2 linked regions of the Homo sapiens genome follow. The protein of the gene in region 1 purifies or fractionates together with the protein of each later gene. This does not show direct contact. Each region holds a gene or a part of one and is shown on either strand. Other genes may lie near its edges. The genes, in order: ANXA7 and MOB1A.

Evidence for each region.
Region 2: the proteins of ANXA7 (region 1) and MOB1A purify together in Homo sapiens (affinity purification with mass spectrometry; 2 studies listed by BioGRID and IntAct, with this or other methods). This does not show direct contact.

What each region holds. Positions count from the first base shown.
Region 1 is NC_000010.11:73,375,609-73,383,870, forward strand, and holds part of ANXA7 (annexin A7), read right to left. Parts: intron 8,083-8,262; coding exon 7,969-8,082; intron 7,738-7,968; coding exon 7,567-7,737; intron 4,594-7,566; coding exon 4,423-4,593; intron 4,347-4,422; coding exon 4,271-4,346; intron 3,416-4,270; coding exon 3,303-3,415; intron 610-3,302; coding exon 487-609; 3' UTR 1-486. UniProt on the Homo sapiens protein: Calcium/phospholipid-binding protein which promotes membrane fusion and is involved in exocytosis.
Region 2 is NC_000002.12:74,154,254-74,162,515, forward strand, and holds part of MOB1A (MOB kinase activator 1A), read right to left. Parts: intron 5,002-8,262; coding exon 4,838-5,001; intron 2,393-4,837; coding exon 2,315-2,392; 3' UTR 1-2,314. UniProt on the Homo sapiens protein: Activator of LATS1/2 in the Hippo signaling pathway which plays a pivotal role in organ size control and tumor suppression by restricting proliferation and promoting apoptosis.

The sequences.
Region 1 (8,262 bases):
AACCAATTTAGGCAAAATGAGATGCAAATTATTCTAGATGTAAAGGTTGAATTTTTTTTTAAAGTACACAGTTTTAACACACTATCCACTCTATCAAGCAGACTTAGAGGGATTCCGGAAGGCAGAGCTTTCAGTAACCTTCTAAAAAATTATTCAATATTATTACACAGAATCAGAGATTGCTGTGATTTTTATTCAATTTGACATCTTGATTAGAATGAAACTAGTAAGAATGAAGGTTTACAAACATTGCAATATTACTGTATCATTGTGATATGGCTTTACATTGATTGTATGTAGAGAACAAAATAAAATTAGAATTAAGGCAATAACAACATGTGCAAACCAAGCACATTACCCTGATACGGTCCTTGACAGAAAGCTCTTTCGGTTAGCTGATGTTTGATATTGCTGCATGCAGGTCATTGCTCTGAAGGATAAGCTATGAATAGAAATTTTTTTTCATTAAAAAAAAAAAAATCCCTCCTACTGGCCCACAATAGCCAGAAGAAGTCTTCGGTAATCTCCACTCGTGTCACCTGCAATCATTGTGCCCAGAGTCTTCTGATACATCTGAGCGAACATCTGTTTTATTTGTACAAGGTCAATCTGCATAAGAAATAATATTTCTGTCAGAAAAACATCTGTGACAACTGACATTTCTTAAAATTCTTTTTAAATAATAAGATCTTAATAATAATCAAAACTTGGGGGGGAAAACACCAAGTGACTGACATTTTATGGCTGGCACTCATACCAATGCTAGCACTACCCAATGAAGGTCTGATTCACAGCTCTGTAAAATACTTGGTCAGGGTAGTACTAGTTTCATCTATTATTCCAAAGATATTAGTCATTTAAAAACATTTGATAGGATGGCTATTATCAAAACCAAAAAAATAGTAAGTATTGGCAAGGATGCCATGAAATGGGAACACTTGTACACAGGTTGATGGAAAAGTAAAAGGGTGCAGCTGCTGTGGAAACTAATATGGTTAATTCCTCAAAGCAAAACAAAAACACTTCCAAAGAATTACAATATGACCTAGAAATTCCACTTCTGGGTATATTCAAAATAAGTGAAAGTAGACTTGAACAGATATTTGTACATCCATGTTCATAGCAGCATTATTCAGGCAGAAACAAACCAAGTGTCACAGATGAATTAAAAAAAAAACCAAAAGGTGGGATACACGTACAATAGACTATTTAATTACTCAGTCTCAAAAGGAAGGAAATTCTGACATGCTATAACATGAATAAACCTTGAGGACGCTATGCTAAGTAAAAGACAACACTCACAAAAAGACAAATATTGTATGATTCCACCAATATGACGTACCTAGAGTAGTCAAACACAGGCACAGAAAGTCACATGGTTTGTTGCCAGCAGTTGGGAGAAAGGAGAATGGGGAGTTACTGTTTAAGGAGTATGGATTTTCAGTTTTGCAAGTTGAAAAAACATCTGAAGGTGAATGGTAATGATGGTTGCATAACAATGTGAATGTACTTACTGCTACTTAAAAATGGTAAATTTTTATGTTATGTATATTTTATCACAACTTAAAACATCCTGCTTTGAAAATTTAAGTTAAAGAACAAAGTTTTTTTCAAAATACCATATTCTGGTTGTTTTCTTTAAAAATAATCTACCTTCTTTAGTATAATTTAGGGTTTTTGGCCGGGTGTGGTGGCTCATGCCTATAATCCCAGCACTTTGGGAGGCCGAGGCAGACGGATCATCAGGTCAGGAGTTCGAGACCAGCCTGACCAACATGGTGAAACCCAGTCTCTACTAAAAACACAAAAAAATTAGCCAGGCATGGTGGCACGCACCTGTAATCCCAGCTACTCAGGAGGCTGAGGCAGGAGAATCACTTGAACCCGGGAGGCAGAGGTTGCAGTAAGCCGAGATTATGCCACTGTATTTCAGCCTGGGTGACAGAGCGAGACTCCATCTCAAAAAAAAAAAAAAAAAAAAAAAAAAAAACACGCAATAATAATAATAATTTAGGGTATTTTTTTGACACAGGGTCTCTGTCACCAAGGCTGGAGTGTAGTGGTGCGATCACGGCTCACTGCAGCCTTGACCTTCCAGGCTCAGGTGATCCTTCCACCTCAACATTCTGGGTAGCTGGGACTACCATGCCGGGGGGTGGGTGTGGGTGTGTGTGTGTGTGTGTGTGTGTGTGTATTTTTTGTATAAATAGGTTTCACCGTGTGTGTGTGTGTGTGTGTGTGTGTATTTTTTGTATAAATAGGTTTCACCATGTTGCCCAGGCTACCACGCCCCGGCGTGTGTGTGTGTGTGTGTGTGTGTGTGCGCGCGCGTGTGTTTTTTGTAGAAATAGGTTTCACCATGTTGCCCAGGCTGGTCTCAAACTCCTGGGCTCAAGCAATCCTCCCGCCTTGGCCTCCCAAACTGCTGAGATTACAGGAGTAAGCCACGACACCCCGCCATGTTTTCTTTCAATTAAAAGTTCAGGCCAGGCGTGGTGGCTCACGCCTGTGATCCCAGCACTTTGGGAGGCCGAGGCAGGTGGATCACTTGAGGTCAGGAGTTCGAGACCAGCCTGGCCAACATGGTGAAACCCCATCTCTACCAAAAAAATACAAAAACTTAGCTGGGCATGGTGGCGCACACCTGTAGTCCCAGCTACTCGAGAGGCTGAGGTGACAGAATTGCTTGAACCCAGGAAGTGGAGGTTGCAGTGAGCTGAGATCGTGCCACTGCACTCCAGTCTGGGTGACAGAGTGAGACCATGTCTCAAAAAAAAAAAAAAAAAAAAAAAATTCAAATGTCATTTCTTCTGAGAAAAAAAATTTTTTGTAAGTGGAGTAAATATATAAAGTACAATTTTTAAAAATGAGGCTATACTTGAGACAATTATGAATATTTTAAAAATTGTTTTATTATTAATAAAGGATGCTAAATTTAAATAATGTTGATATCCACTAGGATTAATCTACATAGGCCTTTCATCTAATTTTTATATAAGCAAAATGAAAATCGAAAGACAAATGTCTAACTTCCCATAAATTTGTATTCTCCATTGACGTTCTCAAGTTGTAAAATCTGTTAGTATTATCTTCATTAGGGTAGAGTGGCCTATTTCACTAATGCAAGCTTCTCCCACAGCATGAGGAAAGTGAATTTTCTGTTCTTTATACCACCTCTTTTAGGTGGCAAAGAGAGCTCTTTCTTATCATTTTTGAGGGACTGACAACCAACTGGGGAACTTTTAAGAAATCAACATTGAACATCAAGTAAGACCCGACAAAAAGAGAGAGGCCTGCCTCACCTCACTTCGAGTGACCACAATCCGGACCAGGGTGGAGTCATCTGTGCCAGCACCTTTCATAGCATAGTAGAGCCTCTCAGCAAAGAAGGCAGGGCGGTTCAGGGCACACTGCACTGCAAGTTAGAGATGGTTGAGACATGGAATCATGATCTCACAAGAAGTGTACCCCTCCAGCTTCATTTATCACTTATAGCCTGCCTTTGATTATTTTCTCTGTAATCATCACAGAAACATGGGGTGAGTTAAGAGTGTTCAGATGCTCTCCTTGATTTTTTTTGAGACAGGTTCTCACTCTGTCATCCAGCCTAGAGTGCAGTGGTGCAATCATGGCTGACTGTAGCCTCCCAGACTCAGGTGATCCTCCCACCTCAGCCTTCTGAGTAGCTGGGACTACAAGTGTGAGCTACTGCCCCTGGCCCAACATTCCATTGTTAATACCAAAGTGTTACTAATACTCCCCTTAGTCCTAATATCCATGAGAATGAAACTTTCACTTTGTTAGACATCTGTGTATTAGACCACCAGAAACTGGTTAACTTCAAAAAGGAAATGAGTCTCACTGGGCTGAGTACCTGAAATATCTGTTTTGAGGACTCAAACTGCTTCGTGGTGACACTGTGAGTTCCTCAGGACTTTCCCTTTCTCTTTAAAGGAAGTGCTACAACTATCAGGTATTCTGGCACAGTTATCAAGACAGGCCTACAGATGAAGGCCAAATAATCCCCAAACAGCCCTGTTTGATCACAGAACTACCATTCATAGGAAATTGTATGTAAAAACACAGGACTGTTTCTGGGGGCTTATCCAATAAAGAAAACAAACAACAAAAAACAAACCCCAAAGGATTAGATCAGCTACTGCCTAAGCAGATTCCACGTGGACTATATTATCAACATTTAATGGGAACAACTATTCAAAGCTCCCACTCATTTAAAAAGAAAATAAAGCAAAGCACAAAAATATCTTACAGATGGTCTTCAAACCACTTTCTACATATCCGGAAAACTCACGGCTCACACTGCTTAACAAGTCTCGATTAGCCATCTGCAAACAAAATTAAAGGGTTAAATATTTTTGTATCTTACAGCAGAAGCCAAATCTTCAAAAGAAAAGCTCATACCCTAGAATAAGCCTCCATGGTAGCTCTCAGCTGAGGAAAGCTTCTTGTGGCAAGGATCATGTTAAAGCAAGATTCATCGGTCCCTAGTCTCCCCTCACCAGCTTGATAGAGACGCTGAGCATCTTCCTGAGCCATTTGGTGGTTTATACTCTGGTTCTCATCACGATTTCCCTGCAAAAGAGAAAGGCAGGAATTGGAAGAAATAAATAATAGTTCTACTAAATTTTTTTTTTCCAATCTAGTTCACTTTTGGATTTAAAGAGACTATTTCTTTTTTTTTTGAGATAGGGTCTTGCTCTGTCACTCAGGCTGGAGTGCAGTATCAACCTCCTAGGCTCAAGTGATCCTTCCACCTCAGCCTCCCAGATAGCTGGGACTACAGGCACAAACGACCATGCCTGGTTAATTTTTTTATTTTTTGTAGAGACAGCATGTCTCACTATGTTGCCCAGGTGCTGGTCTCTAACTCCTGGGCTTAAGTGATCCTCCTGCCTTAGCCTCCTAAAGTGCTGGGATTATAGATGTAAGCCACTGGGCCTGGCCTAAAGAGATAATTTATTAAAGATTAATCCATAATGTCTGTCATGCATATGCTTCATTTCTATGCATGGAAATATAACTAGTAATTTATTATACTGTCAACTGGATTTTATAATATAAGATCACGGTTTAATGAGGTTATGTTAAAAATGAGGGCTTTTGGGAGCTAAATTAAACCCAAAATGTTTAAACAAAAATATCTCTACTAGGAGATATTAACTACCACTCAAATGAAGAAACAGCTCTCTTAGCTGGAATTTAAGATCAATATGCACTGTACTGAGTTCTACTTTTTATTCATTCATGCGACTAAGAGACATTAAGCACTTTCTTTGTGTCAGGCACTGTGTTAAGCGGTAGGGACACAGGAGAGACAGGGTCTCTGCCCTCAAGAAATTTAACTCTAGGGCAGGAGGGAGGGAGGATATAATATGGAGGCTTCATAAACTTTCTTTTCTTCATCTGAGTATAATATTTTTTTTTAAGAGACACGATTTCACTATGTTGCCCAGGCTGGGGTGCAATGGCTATTTGCAGACATGATCATAGCCTCAAACTCCTGGGTTCAAGTGATCCTCCTACCTCAGCCTCCAGAGTAGCTGGGACTATAAGCTCACACCACCACACTCAGCCATCGAATTATAATCTTAATATGTAAGTATTTACCATAAATACACGCATAAAAATGACACATAAGCTTTACAGAAGCAGCTACAAATAACTCATGTTCTGTTAGACTGTGCCTATTTGTATACCACACTCTTCCCTGGAATAGGAAGAAAGGAAGGAGGAAGGAAGAGTTTAAGCTTAATGAGCAGTTGGTTTCTCTCAAAAACAGAAAGACAAACCCAAACAAGAAAAGGCTGCCTTTTAGAGTCTCAGGGACCATCTTTGGAATAAGATGGAAAAATCCTCCTTGAAGCTGAAGAACTGTCTTCTGAGCAACTGGCACAAGGAATACGTAGAGGCACATTCTACATGGGCGACTGAATATAACACAGGAAAAGGTACTCACAAAAAATTTCCCAGATTATTGCCTTTGGATTCACACACACTTTCTCAGGAAGTTACTCCTCTACTCATGCCCTGGAAAAGGTAGGGCTGGGCCTTGAACTCTGCATAAAGAGAGACTCAGCACCTCATGTAAAATCTTAATAGCCATTTTTTAGCATTGTCTGTTTTCCTTCTTGTTTCTTTTAAATCCTAACCTACTGCCCTCCTGTTACTCTGATTTAGGTAAATTCAATTTCCTTCAACCCATTTACTTTGCTTTCTCATTTCCATATCCACTATCCTTTCCACAGCTACCTCCCTTTTTTTTTTTTTAGATGGAGTTTTGCTCTTGTTACCCAGGCTGGAGTGCAATGGCACAATCTCAGCTCACTGCAACCTCTGCCTCCCGGGTTCAAGCGATTCTGCTGCCTCAGCCTCCCAGGTAGCTGGGATTACAGGTGCCACCACTCCTGGCTAATTTTTTGTATTTAGTAGAGATGGAGTTTCACCATGTTGGTCAGGCTGGTCTCAAACTCCTGACCTCAGGTGATCCACCCGCCTCAGCCTCCCAAAGTACTGGGATTACAGACATGAACCACCACACCCAGCCCCTCCCTTGGCTCTTAAGAGCCCCTCCTCTCCTTTAGATCCCTCCAGATGGTCCAATCTTGTGCACTAGCACAATAGGCAATAACTCTTGATATTGAATCAGCATGCTAGTCATTTACATAATCTCTTTCAAATACACCTTCATCATCTAAGTGTGCTTCTTTTCTTTTTTTCTTTTCTTTTTTTTAAGGACAGGATCTCACTCTATTGCCCAGGCTGGAATGCAGTGGTGCGATCACAGTTCACTGCAGCCTCAATCTCCTGGGCTCAAGTGATCCTCCCACTGAACTTCCTGAATAGCTGGCACTACAGGCACATACCACCATGTTCGGCTAATTTTTAAAAATATTTTTTATAGAGATGGTTTCTTGCTATGGTACCCAAGCTGGCTTCAAACTCCTGGCCTCAAGCAATCCTCCTGCCTTGGCCTCCAAAAGTGCTGGAATTACAGGTGTGAGGCACAATGTCTGGCCCTAAGTGTGTTTCTAATGCCATTCCAAATACCCTATTTGGAGTATTTTCTGTCAATTCTCCAGCACACCTGGGGAATCAAAATAAAGAAGGTGCTAATCACAGTTATTACTGGGAACCCTAAAACATTTTTCTGCATTTCTGGGTCTCCTCACATAGTCCTCACTTCCTGTAGCACCTCTATGGCAGTCCTGCACATCTTCACTTGATGGTGGGGCATAATGGGCAGGATAGTGATAAGCTCAAATGTACAGTTTCATCCCCATCCCAGCCACAGAGCCTCGAATTGGTTTCTGATTCCATACAACCTTAGAGGTTAAATCTCTAATTCCTTACAAAAGCCAGATTTACAGGAATAAATCTCAATAGTAACTACAAAGAAATCTGTACACTGGTTTCTGTGTTGTCCCTCTTAAAGATGGCAATATTGCAAGGTGGCTAAATATTAAAAGGAATAAAGAATGCTCACTGGCAAAAGGCTTTTAAAGTATGTTCCCTCTATCAACGCACAAGCATTCATACTATACTCACCTGGCACATGGACACAAGTAAACGTTCAAAATGTCCTGATGTATCTGACCTAATGTCCTTTTCAAGGTCTCGTCCAAATTCTGACTGATAACATCTGACAATTTCTCGGATTTCCTGATTTGTTCTTGTGCACAAAATCTCAATCAATACACGTTCCTGAGTTCCTGCTCCCTACATGAAATGAAGGGAAGATTATACAAAGAAAAATGAAATTTCTGCAAGTAATTAAATCTTCGTCAAATATTTCTTTGTTCTGTAGAACTAAAAACTATATATTCAGATGGATGATGTGAAATAAAGAATTGCTTTAATTACCACTGTAAATTCAGAACTGTCATAATTTGTACGGTTTTACATATGAAATAGGACAAAATATTCATAATAAATGACATATAGTAGTACCTGCATTGCTTTCCGTAAGCTCCAGGCATCGTAATACGTAGGAGGCATGAAGAGGGCCAGGATCAGTTCTTCCATATTTCCACTTAACTCTGATTTGAGATCTTTGATTAAATCCTATTTAATCACAAATACAAGCTAAGTATATGTGTTCTCCAAATTTTGTCACTTAAATCTTTTAAGGAAAATACAAAAAAAGAAATGGAATTGCTTTATAAAAACCTAAATTTGAAAGCTGAATGTTAATATACTAAGAAGTAAATAAAGGCCAGGCGCGGTGGCTCATGCCTGTAATCC
Region 2 (8,262 bases), on another chromosome or scaffold:
AACTCAGGAAGGCGCCATCCTCTTCCCATTATCTCCCCTTCCTCCAATTCTCCTCCTCCCCTTGGCTCCCTAGCCTTGGAGGTAAACACTAATATTTCAGTGCACTGTTGGTTAAGCCAGATTGGCTTGGGAACCTGGTAATGTTTTTATTTTTATTTTAAAAAAGGACAGTCTTGAGTCTCAAAATACCAACACATCTCTGATTTATGTCCCATTTATAAGCTGCCTTTACTACTGTCCTGACATGTGATCGTCTTTCATTTGCTTTGGAGCTTAGTGGTGAAGAGAGGGAACATTTCCATAACTGAAAATAAATGGAGAAAAGTGGTAACTCTTTTGTTTGAGAATATTTGAAATACTAGAAATAATGAGGAAAGTACAAGCCTAGCTGAGAAACTAGTTTCATCACTTGTGGACTTAAAAAAGTAAAGCTAACAGGGTTTAAAGTTGAGAGGCAGTTCACATCCTAAGTGATACCTAGAAACCTGCTTTCTTGTTCGCAAATGATCAACATGAACATACAGAATGGCTGACATTTGGACCTTTGGATAAGCTTAAAACATGGATTGTGGAATGTCTAATAGAGGGCTTTTCTCTCTTTTTTTTAATAATGACTGTCCCACACTTTAATTCCTCAATGATATGTGGATGCTAACTAAATCAGATGAAATGTTTTCTTTAAAATTCTGTATATATTTAAGAATTTCTAGGAAATGATTATTTAAAATGGAGTTTCTAAGTAATTATTTTCTTTATAGTTTAGTGGAGTAAGAAAAATAAATCTAAAAAAAAACATCAAATCTAACCTTTATCAAAGCCATCGAGGAGGTTGGTAAAATACTTTGCAAAAATCACAGCTCTGAACCACATAGAATGCTGATGAACTTAAAGCTTTGCCAGTTTGGCAAGTCTTCCAGTATAATACTTGTTGTGCCTCAGTACATTTTAAATAGACAGCTAGAGTTTACTAAATCCTAGGAATCAAATAAAAAATAAATGTTTTCTTCACTGAAGGGGAAGGCTTTTATATCCCAATAGAAATAGAGGAATTTCAAGTTTTGATACAAAAACAATTAAAACAAGATAAAACCCAAGTGGAAGCTCAGTCCATCTTTTGAATATTAACAAAATGAGGATTTTTTTAAAACTTATTTCTCCCATTTTGTTTCCTTTAAACACATACACTCACTCACTCTCTCAAGAATAGGTAGCACACCAAAACTTTATCTGTGTTATAAGATGTGTACACCTTCATGGTTTATTGTGGTTTTCCTTAAGTTTTATCCTTATTAGGATGAAGTTCATGCATTTCTACACTACTCTTAACTAAGGCTCAAGAGACAATAAAAACATAGAAGTAATTTTTTAATAAAAGGAAATAAAATAATCAAGTACTCTGAGTATTTTCCTCCATTCTCTTATCCAGAATTTTAAGGCCTCTGAAAAATAATGAAATAATAAAAATAGTGGTTTTGAGATCTAAATTTATTAATATTTTGGATTCCTTTTCTCAGCCAAAAGCTACTATCTGAATTAAGCTTTTCAGTTTAAAAGCCTGGAAGACCATCCTTAGAAGACATTAAAAAATTACTTCTGATACACACACTCCTAATAATTTAGATAGATATGAAAACAATCTCAAATAAAGATCAAAAAATAAAGTCCCTGTAAAAATAACTTTGGTTGCTCCCACCCACACGTCATATGATGATTTAAACTGCAATCATGAATTTTGAAAAAATAGACGTATCTTATCTATAAAAACACTACCATACAAACTTGAAACTAAAATGTTATCTGAAGTGACACAGATGTTCTAAATCTCAAGGATACTGAAAAATACATTTTTTATTCGTAAAATAAAAGAATAAAACCAATCTGATTGTGTTATTAGGAAATTTGTTCTGGAAACTTATTCATAAATTATTGATGGAAATTCTTAATGTCCATTGTGCTGTCACCTAAAACAGATTCAATCATTTTCTTGTAAAGAAATGACTGAGTAAATGAGTAAAAGAATAATAAGTAAATTTATAAGCTACAGGTTAACCATCACATATTACAACCAAGTATGACTATGTGATAACAACAAGAGTGGTCACACAGTACTTAAGATTTGGCTGTGTCCTTAAGGTCTTACTCGGAAACTATCACACCAACCTACCTTTGGGATAATTTTATCAGTAGACACAGGCAATGGGTATCTTTTTATCCTGTTTTCTTAAAGTTTGTATCACTAGTCTATAACAGATAGCAATGAGATAGTTCTAGCAATAGATGAAGCAAGGGGGTAACTGTGTTCTAGAAGAAACATTTATCTGTCTTTTGATCCAAGTTTCTCTATTAATTCTTGAAGAGGTGCCAGCTCACGCCTATCAATCAGATTAAACTCCTAAAAAGAGAAGAAAAATAACAATTAAAAATGGATCTAAAACTGAAACTCTGTAAATGTCTTTTGGAGAAGGGATTCCCAACTCTAGTTTTCTGAAGTCCAAAAGAATGATGAAATAACCTCTGTGAACATTTTAAAGTAGGCATTTATTCTTTTTCTTTTTTTTTTCTTTTTTGTACAGATGTGGTCTATGTTGCCAAGGCTGGTACTGAACTTTGGCCTCAAGTGATCTGCCCACCTTGGCATCCCAAATCCCAAAGTGCTAGGATTACAGGGGTAAGCCACCACGTCCAGCCCTCTCTTTTTAAAAATATAGGTATGATATTGTGATATAAGTATTTGGTCTTCCTTTTTCTTTACACACAGCTCCTAAAACCCTTGTTGGAATCACCAGAGTGCTAAGAGTATCTTGTATGCTAATGAGATGACTGGTGGCTGGAGGCTCCTATAAAGCTTCAGGATGGGAACTGGTCAACCTTCAGCCAGCCCTCTCCCCTTCCCAGATCACAGCCTCTGGGGAGGGGAAAGGGCTGGCTGAAGGTTGAGTTGATCATCAATGGCCAATTATTTAATCAATCATGGGCAAGTAATGAAGCCTCCATAAAAACACAAAAAACAGGGCTCAGGAGAGCTTCCAGATAGCTGAACACGTGGAGGTTCCTGGAGCATGGCATGCCTGGAGAGAGCATGGAAGCCCCTTCTCCTTTGGCCCTACACATCTCTTCCATCTGGCTGTTCATCTGTATCTTTTGTTAACATCTTTCATAATAAACAGGTAGAGATAAGTATTTCCCTGAGTTCTATAAGCGGCTCTAGCAAACTAATCAAACCCAAGGAGGGGGTTGTGGGAACCCTGGTTTATAGTCAGAGGTATAGGTGACAATGTATTACTTTTGATTGATATCCCAAATGGGGGGCAGTCTTGTGGGACTGAGCTCTCAAACTTGTAGGATCTGATGCTACCTCCAGATAGACATTATCAAAATTGAATCAAATTATAGGACATTCATCTGGTGTCCACTGTAGAAATGATCACTTGCTTGGTGTGTGAGGGACAGTCCCCATGTTTGGTCACAGAAGCGTTCTGTGTGGTGAGAGTATAGTAGGATAAAGGGAGTTTGTTTTTTCCCATATTTTTACAATGGGAGACTTATTAAAGAACCAACTCTAGGTATCAGTATGATCCTCATTGTGTTAAACATTAAAATCAAAACTGTATATATATTTAAATTTACATTAAAATTACCCGAAAAAGGCCGGGCATGGTGGCTCATGCCTGTAATCCCAGCATTTTGGGAGGACAAGGTGGGTGGATCATTTGAGGTCAGGAGTTCGAGATCAGCCTAGCCAACATGGTGAAACCCCATTTCTAGTAAACATAAAAATTAGCCGGGCGTGGTGGCAGGTGCCTATAATCCCAGCTACTGAGGAGGCTGAGGCAGGAGAACTGCTTGAACCCAGGAGGCAAAGGTTGCAGTTAGCCGAGATCGTGCCACTGCACTCCAGTCTGGGCGACAGAGCAAGACTCTGTCTCCAAAAAAAAAAAAAAGAGGGGGGAAAAAAAAAAAAGAAACTACCTGAAAACTACAAACTGAATTTTTGATAAAGGGCCAGTAGACCTTTTATGCAACAATCTGAGAAGGAAGATCAGGAAGAGCATGGTACAGTACACAAAACTATAATACACAGTATCTACTATAAAGCTACCAGGTTTTTTCATCATAAAATATCTAGACAGACATGTATATGTAATTCAATATGCAAAATATAAGTATCTCTAAAGTTAGGCTAAAGGCATACCAATTCTTTGATATCTTTTTCAAACAATGTGAATTATTTTGATTTTTTAAAGTTCCAATTCTGGCCGGGTGCTGTGGCTCAGGCCTGTAATTCCAGCACTTTGGGAGGCCGAGGTGGGTGGATCAGGAGTTCGAGACCAGCCTGGCCAACATGGGAAACCCCGTCTCTACTAAAAATACAAAAATTAGTTGGGGGTGGTGGTGGGCACCTGTAATCACAGCTATTCGGGAGGCCGAGGCAGGAGAATCACTTGAACCCAGGAGGCGGAGGTTGCAGTGAGCCAAGATCACGCCATTGCACTCTAGCCTGGGCCACAGAGTGAGACCCTGTCTCAAAAAAAAAAAAAAAAAAAGTTCCAATTCTGACTAAGGGTCCACAAAGCAACAGGCCACAACCCTGAATGGATAATCCTAACCACAGACCTAGGGTGGCCAGAGGCAGAAGGCCCAAATGGGGGTGATACCTTTTTATACTGCTGCACACATCAATAAAATAAATAATGTGGAAAAGAGAACAAAACAGAAAAGAGAAGCTTGCCTGTAATTGGCTCTACATCTATAACTAAGACACACAGCTCTTTGTTGAAGTTCCCAATCCAAATAAGTCCAAGTCACAGGACACAGAAATCAACATGGATCAACTTACCTGAACAAAGAAAATAAAGTGCTTAAAGGAGGTGTTGAGGTGGGCCTCCTCTTGCAGCTGCATCACAGAATCAAAGTGCTGGTGATAAATATGGGCATAAACCCTGAACAGACGCTTTAGAATAGTCTTTGCCACAGACATAAAGTTTTTGGGAAATGGGACACCTGCAATTAAATACACATATGAAACAATTATTTGGTTATCTAACAGTAGAAAGTTGTTTATTTGTGACAGGGTCTCACTTTGTCACTCAGGCAGTGGTGCAATCTCAGCTCACTGCAGCCTCGACCTCCTGGGCTCAACTGATCCTCCCACCTTGGCCCCCCAAATAACCTGCACTACACGCCACCATGCCCAGCTAATTTTTTGTATTTTTTGTAGAGATGGGGTTTTGCCATGTTGCCCAGGCTGGTCTTGAACTCCTGAGCTCAAGCAATCTGCCCGCCTCAACCTCTTAAAGTGCTAGGATTACAGGCATGCCCAGCCTAACAGCAGAAAGTTTACACACTGCCATGAGCACCTGCAACATATAAACACACACATTCATAAATACACACAAACCTACCTCTGTATATATTTTTTAAAGCCAAGGAAATGAAAACCCAAACCCCAATCCTCACAAAGTACCACACTTTTTTCTGACTGCCTTAGGCACAGGTATCAAATTATGTAAGATGCTGCTAAATCAAAGTTCAAAAATCCTGTAGTTTTAGTTTTTTGTTTTTTGTCCCCCCCCCCACCCCGGAGACTGAGCCTCACTCTGTCACCCAGGCTGGAGTTCAGTAGCATGATCATGGTTCATTGTTACCTCCACCTCCCAGGCTTAAGCAATCTGCCCACCTCAGCCTCCAAAGTAGCTGGGACTACAGGCGTGCACTACTACACCTGGCTGATTTTTGTATTTTTAGTACAGATGGGTTTTTGCCATGTTGGCCAGCCTGGTCTCGAATTCCTGGCCTCAAGTGATCTGCCTGCCTTGGCTTCCCAAAGTACTGGGATTTAGTTCTTTAATATTAGAGAGTTTCTTTCTGAAATTAAATGCAACAAGAGTAAGTATTTTGATCATAAATATTTTTACTTTGTAATTTGTAACTCTAAAGAAATTACACTGGCTCCGTGTGGTGGCTCGTGCCTGTAATCCAGCACGTTGAGAGGCCGTAGTGGACAGATTGCCTGAGCTCATAAGCCTGAGTTCAAGATAAGCCTGAGCAACAAGGTAAAACCTCATCCCTTAGGAAAAAAAAGAAGAAATTACATACATACGCACTCTCTCAATGAGGACTGGAAACTCTCCTAAGCAAAATAAAAAGGCAGCCGGGCACAGTGGCTCACGCCTGTAATCCCAGCACTTTGGGAGGCCGAGGGGGGCAGATCACGAGGTCAGGAGGTCAAGACCAGCCTGGCCAAAGAGACCAGCTTGGCCAACATGGTGAAACCCCATCTCTACTAAAAATACAAAAATTAGCCAGGGGTGGTGGCAGGCAACTGTAATCCCAGCTACTCGGGAGGCTGAGGCAGAGAATTGCTTGAACCCGGGAGGTGGAGGTTGCAGTGAGCCGAGATCGCGCCACTGCACTCCAGCCTGGGTGACAGAGCGAGACTCCGTCTCAAAAAAAAAAAGAAATCTCTTTTTAGAAAACAACGGGGGTAGAGTTTGGTATCCTTCCAAGCAGTGGAGATGGGGATCCAACTGGTTACATTCCTGAGAATTTTGGCTGACAATATCAAAGTCCATTAGAAAACAGGGACAGACAGGTCAGGAGTTCGAGACCAGCCTGACCAACATGGTGAAACCCTGTCTCTACTAAAAATACAAAAATTAGCCAGACGTGGTGACTAAGGCCTGTAATCCTAGCTACTCAAATGGCTGAGGCAGAAGAATCGCTTGAACCCAGGAGGCGGAGGTTGCAGTGAGCCAAGATTGCCGCCACTGCACTCCAGTCTGGGCGGCAGAGTGAGACTCCATCTCAAAAAATAAAAATAAAAATAAACCTACATTAGTTGGCCTTAAAGGCCTGTTCCACAACGCTACTCTTGAAACACATTCTTTTTTTCAATTTTTCAGAAAACAAAGGCTTAAAACACTCTTTCCTTGCATTTTTTTCCCAGCCAGTTCTCAATAACCTGAAACTTATTTTGCTGATGTTTGTGGTTATTCTCCACCACCACCCCAGTCCTCATTAACGTGACTTTTCAGACATTATCCTGGAGCTTACAGGCATGTTTTCCTGGGCAGGATCTTGTATTCATGTATTGAAAAAGCAGATTTCTGGCCGGGTGCAGTGGCTCATGCCTGTAATCCCAGCACTTTGGGAGGCCGAGGCGGGCGGATCATGAGGTCAGGAGATCGAGACCATCCTGGCTAACACAGTGAAACCCTGTCTCTACTAAAAATACAAAAATTAGCCAGGCGTGGTGGCGGCACCTGTAGTCCCAGCTACTCGGGAGGCTGAGACAGGAGAATGGCAGAATGGCGTGAACCCGGGAGGCGGAGCTTGCAGTGTGCTGAGATCATGCCACTGCACTCCAGCCTGGGCAACAGAGTGAGACTCCGCCTCAAAAAAAAAAAAAAGCAGTATTCTGGCCAGGTGCAGTGGCTCATGCCTGTAATCTCAAGCTCTTTGGGAGACTGAAGCAGAAAGGTTGCTTGGGCCTAGAAGTTTGAGACCAGTCTGGGCAACACAGTGAGACCTCGTGTCTACAAAAAATTGAAAATTAGCTGGGCGTGGTGGCACACGTGCCTGTGGTCTCAGCTACTCAAGTGGCTGATGTAGAAGGACCACTTGCGCCTGGGAGGTCAAGTCCACAGTGAGCTGTAACTGCACCACTGCACTCTAGCCTGGGCAACAGAGTGAGAGTCTGTCTCAAAAAAAAAAGTAGATTTCAAAATCAAACATCTTTTTTTATCAGAATGTATAAATGGGCATCTTTCTAATAAAAGGATATTAATAATGTGCATATATTAGTAAAAAATTAATGATAAACAGTTCTGTCTGAGACTAAATAACTGGCAAAAGTAAGATGCAGATAATAGCCTAATGGCAGGGGAGTGGGATTAAGAGGTGGTGGATCAGAATGAATTATTTAAGAACAAGAAAGTGAGAAAAAAGCCAGGCATGGTGGCTCATGCCTGTAATTCCAGCACTTTGGGAGGCCAAAGTGGGTGAATCACTTGAGGTCAGGAGTTCGAGACCAGCCTGGCCAACATGGTGAAACCCTGTCTCTACCTAAAACTACAAAAACTAGCCAGGTGTGGTGGTGGGCGCCTGTAGTCCCAGCTACTTGGAGGCTGAGGCACGAGAATCGCTTCAACCCAGGAAGTGGAGGTTGCAGTAGAGCCGAGACTGTGCCACTGCCCTCCAGCCTGGGTGACAGAGTGAGACCCTGTCTCCAAACAAAAAAGAGAGAAAAGAGGATAAATCAAA